Regions from separate parts of the Homo sapiens genome. Here region 2 is linked to region 1. The links come from fine-mapping of genetic effects on gene expression. A gene starts in region 1. The other region holds a variant in brackets. All regions are shown on one strand. Distances are between the middles of the regions. Region 1 holds the start of PLA2G4B (phospholipase A2 group IVB). Region 2 has its middle 20 kb from the start of MGA.

The links. PIP is the estimated chance that this variant, and not a neighbour inherited with it, causes the effect. A credible set is the group of variants that fine-mapping cannot tell apart.
Region 2: its variant is the best candidate, but not a certain one, in a credible set for the expression of PLA2G4B in subcutaneous fat (FUSION, PIP 0.59).

Annotation. Positions count from the first base shown.
Region 1 is chr15:41,837,193-41,840,096 of GRCh38, reverse strand. PLA2G4B (phospholipase A2 group IVB) reads right to left here and starts at 1,250. Exons shown (of 20, transcript NM_001114633.2): 1 at 1,175-1,250. The coding sequence starts at 1,183. The region is part of intron 6 of JMJD7-PLA2G4B (JMJD7-PLA2G4B readthrough); the gene reads right to left. JMJD7 (jumonji domain containing 7) reads right to left here. Exons shown (of 8, transcript NM_001114632.2): 8 at 2,516-2,904.
Region 2 is chr15:41,639,006-41,641,909 of GRCh38, reverse strand. It overlaps a transcript of MGA not described here. Among named protein-coding and RNA genes, the nearest start is that of MGA, 20 kb to the left of the region's middle. The variant C/T (reference allele first, on the strand shown) is at 1,578.

The sequences.
Region 1 (2,904 bases):
ACAAAGGAGGCTGGAGCAGTGCCTCAAGGCCTAATCCTGAACCCCAGGCCCATCCTCCATCTCATCAGAATCCTGAATCAACAAGAGGAGACATGATATCTCCATCATGACGCCTGCCAGCACTTACACAATGCTCTGCGCCGGCTCTGGGCCAAGGGCTTTGCATACATTAACTCATTTATCGCACAACCACCTTATGCACAGATACTATTTACGATGGCCCACTCCACAAGGAAACTGAGGCACAGAGAAGCAGTCACTTGCCTGAGGTCCACAATTGGGGTTGGAGCCCGGGCAGGCTGGCTCCAGATTTATGCCTCACACAGACCTGCTTCCACCTTCTCGGGCTAGTATCCTTTAGGCTCTCCACCCCACATCCCCAGCCCACACCCCAGCTAAGCAGCTTTCCGGCTGGTCTTGGGTGGCAGGGGACATAAGCTATCGAGGGAGGGGAAGTAGCACATCAGGGCCTTGGGCCCCAGGCTGAGCTGCTCTCGTACCCTCCCTCCACCCTGGTCAGAAGAGCATCCTGGAAATGGGCTCTCTCCTGGGCAGGGGAGGCGGCTCCTAGCTCAGACCCCTCACAGGCTGTCATGTCCTCCAGGTCCTGCCAGGTCAGGCTGAAGATGGTCCCCCGGTAGCTCCCTCCAAACCCATGCCCCTGGTTCTGGGAATGCAGCCTGGCAGGCGCACCGGGACCAGGGAAGCCTGTGCCAACTGCTTCCTTTCGGCCTTCCACCTGCCTCCACAAGGACCCTAACAGGTCAAGTCCAGGGAGCAACCAGGTCCAGGGCAGTGCTGGAGGGCCTCATCCACCAGGGTCAGCCCAGGGCCCTCACACTCCAGGCAACTGAGTCAGAGGAGCATGGAGGAGCCACTTGCTTCCAGGGCCTCAGGGCGGCAGCTGGGAGCCTCTGAGTCTCCAGGGCCCAAATCTGTGGTGCCAGGGAGCTCTGCCAGGAGCCCGTTCCCAGGACAGAAAACACTCAGGACGGATCCCTCATCCCCAAGCCTCCTCCTCCCCTGGCTTCTGCCCGCTACCCTGGTCTTGTGGTCAATAAACTCCCCTCCCTACCCCTGGAGAAGACCACAGCTCCCATAAGAAACATATTAACTAGGCCCCAGGTAGAGACCAGGGGTCCCAGTAGGGACCCAGGGCCCTGCCAGGCCTTACCACAGCCATGAGACTGAGTCCTCAGGAGCAGGAATGATGGGGCAGTGGCCACAGGATCAAGGACTGTCAGCTTTCTAACCCAGAGCCAGGGATGTGATGTCCCAATTGGTCCCAAGTCCCTCCTACCCGCCGCCTCTGCTCCACCTAAGCTCCACACCCACTCCTGAACCAGCCACCTGTCCAGGAAATGAGGCACCCTAAGCCTATACTAGAGCTCCTGATACCTCTGTGGCACTCGCCAGCCTTTACCAGCTGGGCCTGCCCCACCCAGCCCTGCAATCCCAGCCTGGAGAGCTTGCTGCCAGGGGCTGAGCAGAAGGAAAGCAGGGGTGAGTCCCAGAACAGCAGCCAAGGGAAGAGTGGAGTTCCCTGTCACAGGCCTTTCGCAACTCTGGCACCTGTTGGACAGGAATGCCCAGTCTTGATGGCAGGGATCCATCAATCTGAGATGAACACCCGGGCCCCCTCACGACAGGCAGGGGAGTGGCTGTCACATAAAACAGCCCTTCAAAGCTAGGTGCTGAGTGGCCAGGGATGAGGCCTGTGGGTTGGCACTCAGGGGCAGGGGGTTCTTCTGCCTCCAGGGCATGGTTTGTGGGGGGGTCAGCGTGTGGAGACCAACTCTTTCCTCAGAGGGACAGCCCCAGGAGAGGCGGGGGCTTCCGTCCCTTCCTGCCTGTGCCTGTTATGGGAGAAACAGGGGTTATCCCCAGGGCACCAGGTCCCACCTGCTGCCCCTGAACTGGGGGAGGACAGTAACCATAGGAGAGCTAGGAATAGCTCTCAAGGTCCTGGGCAAAGAGGTCCGGACCAGAGAGCTACAAGACTCAGGTCTGCTTGCTTGTCCCAGGGAGGGGCTGCGGTGACTCTCATGGACAGCGGGACTTGGGCAGCTGACGGCTCTTTGGGCCCAGGCTGGGATCCAGCCCTCACCCCCAGTGAAGGTCACCCTGAAGTTTTTACCTGAACCTTCAGGCCCTCCTTAGACCACAGAAGGCAACTTCAAGAGGGAGGATCAGAACATACGACTCATAAGCCAGGCGCAGCAGCTCACACCTGTAATCCCAGCACTTTTGGGAGGCCGAGGCAGGTGGATCACGAGGTCAGGAGATCAAGACCATACTGGCTAACACGGTGAAACCCCGTCTCTACTAAAAATACAAAAAAATTAGCCGGGCATGGTGGCACGCACCTGTAGTCCCAGCTACTTGGGAGGCTGAGGCAGAATAGTGTGAACCTGGGAGGCGGAGCTTGCAGTGAGCTGACATCACACCACTGCACTCCAGCCTGGGTGACAGAGCGAGACCCCATCTTAAAAAAAAAAAAAAAAGGACATACGACTCACAGCTACCTTTTATTCAACATGTCCTGTGTGCCAGCTCCATGCTGGTCCTCATAGACATCATCTCCAAGCCCACAACAGCCCCGCGAGGTACAGCCATTATTATCTCTTTACTGACAGGACACCAATGCCCGAGACGCAGTGACTCGCCCAACATCACAGCGCTGGGGAGAGGTGCCGCTGCACCTGATCCCCACTCTGCTCACCTGTGTGGCAACTTCCTGAGAACCCTCACCCAGACCTGCCTGGCACCTTGAGTCCTTATGACCACATTCCAAGATCCTCCAAAGCTGATCTCAAGCCATGCTGGACCCGGGGCCAGCAGCCAGCATGCACACTCCAGGCTCTCTCGAGAATTGACCTGGCCAGGGAGGGGCTGGCTCCGTCC
Region 2 (2,904 bases), 200 kb after region 1:
TCAGGAGGATTGCTTGAGCCCCAGAGGTCAAGACTACAGTAAGTTGTGACTGCACCACTGCACACCAGCCTGGGCAACAGAGTGAGACCAGTCTCAAAACAAAATAGAACAAAAAAAGTGTAGGCCGGACACGGTGGCTCATGCCTGTAATCCCAACACTTTGGGAGGCCAAAGCAGGCAGATCACGAGGTCAAGAGATCGAGACCATCCTGGCCAATATGGTGAAACCACGTCACTACTAAAAATACAAAAATTAGCTGGGCGTGGTGGCGCGCACCTATAGTCCCAGCTACTCGGGAGGCTGAGGCAGGAGAATTGCTTGAACCCAGGAAGCAGAGGTTGCAGTGAGCTAAGATTACGCCACTGCACTCCAGCCTGGCAACAGAGCAAGACTCCTTCTCAAAAAAAAAAAAAAAAAAAAAGTGTTAGGATGTAGAAAAATTGGAACTCTCATTTTCTGTTGGTGAAAATATAAAATAGTATAGGTACTCTGGAGAACACTGGCAGTTTCTCGAGAAGTTAAGCATGGAGATACCATATGACCCAATCATTCCACTATTACGTACATACCCAAGAAAAATAAAAACATAAGTTTATACAAAAAAAGTCCATTAATGGTCACAAAAGCATTATTCATAGTAGCCAAAAAATGAAAATAACCCAAATGTTCATCAACTGAAGAATGGATAAACAAAATGTGCTGTATCAACACAATGAAATATTATTCAGCCATAAAAATGAATTAAGTATGGATACATGCTACAACATGGATGAACTTTGAAAACATGCTAAAGAGTCTGATCACAAAGGACCTCATTTTGTATGATTCCATTTATATGAAATGTTCCAAAACAGATCAATCCATAGAGATAGAAAGTAGACTGATAGTCACCTAGGCCTGGGAAGACTGGGGGAGAAATAGGGAATGACTGCTAATGAGTATAGTGTTGCTTTCTGGGATGCTGAAATGTTCTAAAATTGTGGTGATGGATGCATTACTATGAATACACTAAAAACCACTGAATTATACACTTTAAATGGGTAAATTTTATAGTACATTAATTTTATCTCAAAACTTTAAAAACTAAGAGGAGGGCAGGCGCAGTGGCTCACGCCTATAATCCCAGCACTTTGGGAGGCCGAGGTGGGCAGATCGTGAGGTCAGGAGTTTGAGACCAGCCTAACTTACATGGCAAAACCCCGTCTCTACTAAAAATACAAAAATTAGCTGGATGTGGTGGCGTATGCCTGTAATCCCAGCTACTTGGGAGGCTGAGGCAGGAGAATCGCTTGAACCGGGAGGCAGACATTGCAGAGAGCCGAGATCGCACCATTGTATTCCAGCCTGGGCGACAGAGCGAGATTCCATCTCAAAAAAAAAAACTAAGAGGAAATACCTACAAATAAATGTTAGACGCTAATGTCACAAAACTAAGGTTCAAATGATGTACAATCTTACATCAACGATAAGAAACTGTATCGCTTCTCTAGGCTCAACAACTCCTTTGTAAATTCTCAGTAACTTTAAGGTTAGTGAGAACTCTAAGACAAACAATGAGCACCAAGTTGCACCTCAA[C/T]TCCTTAGCTTAGCATATAAGGGCCTCAATACTCTGGACCCAGCTTTCCTTCTTCCTGCTGCTGTATACTCAACTACTCCTTATTTCCTAAATATGCTCCCCGGGTTTTTTTATCTGAACCTTTGCATTTATAATTACGCTGCTTTAGCATCTTCTCTCTGCCTTCGTAGTCCATAAATTCACCAGCATCATTCTCCCTAATCTCCTCCTATTGAAATCATCCTCATTCTTAAAGTCGAGTATTTTCATGAAGCCTGCCTTGATGCCCTTGCTGTGTAAACACTGGCCTTCCTCTAAACCACCAAAGGATACTGTCATTCTCCTTTGGTGCACAGTAATCTAGCTCTCATCATCCTTGACAGATTGGTCAGCACACTCAGAGTCATCTCTCAAGGCAAAAGCTCTACCAACAATGCCTTGCAGATTAAGGAACCTCTTATTTCACCTTCAACTCCTAACTCCACATAAAAACCACATGCTCCTGGGGCCAGGCACGGTGGCTCACGCCTGTAATCCCAGCACTTTGGGAGGCCAAGGCAGGCAGATCACGAGGTCAGGAGATCGAGACCATCCTGGCTAACACGGTGAAACCCCGTCTCTACTAACAATACAAAAAAAAAATTAGCTGGGCGTGGTGGCAGGTGCCTGTAGTCCCAGCTACTCTAGTGGCTGAGGCAGGGGAATGGTGTGAACCTAGGAGACGGTGCTTGCAGTGAGCCGAGATTGCGCCACTGCACTCCAGCCTGGACGACAGAGCGAGACTCCATCTAAAAAAATAAAAATAATAAAAATAAATTAATTAATTTAAAAAAAAAAAACTACATGCTCCTGACTCCTGTGCCGAGCTAATTAGATAGGGGGATCCAACAGACCTAAAGGTTCTATGAATTAACCATCAGCTTGTGAGGAAAGAGTGCTATGAGAGTTTAGTTAAATAGGAATGACAAACATTCTCTGACTTAAATGTAAAAATGTACTCTCTTATTCCCTCTCAACTGAATGGAAAGTGGGAGGAAAAGACTCACGGAGCTGGAATCAAGAATAGAAACTAAAACATTGCCAGAGAAGGGGCCATAAAATAGTAGAGCCACACAAGAGAAGAAACCATAAGACAAGGAAAAACACACAAAAGAAAAGGGTGAAGTCAGAAGTGGGATGGGACAAGAATAGTATAACAAGAGGGGAAAAAAAGAAGACATTATGATCCCCAACCAGGAAGAGAAGGACAAATTCTCATGCTGAAAGGGCTGAGATGTGAGATCACTTGAGACCTGGAGTTCAAGTCCAGCCTGGGCAACACAGTGAGACCCCCATCAAAAAAAGGTCA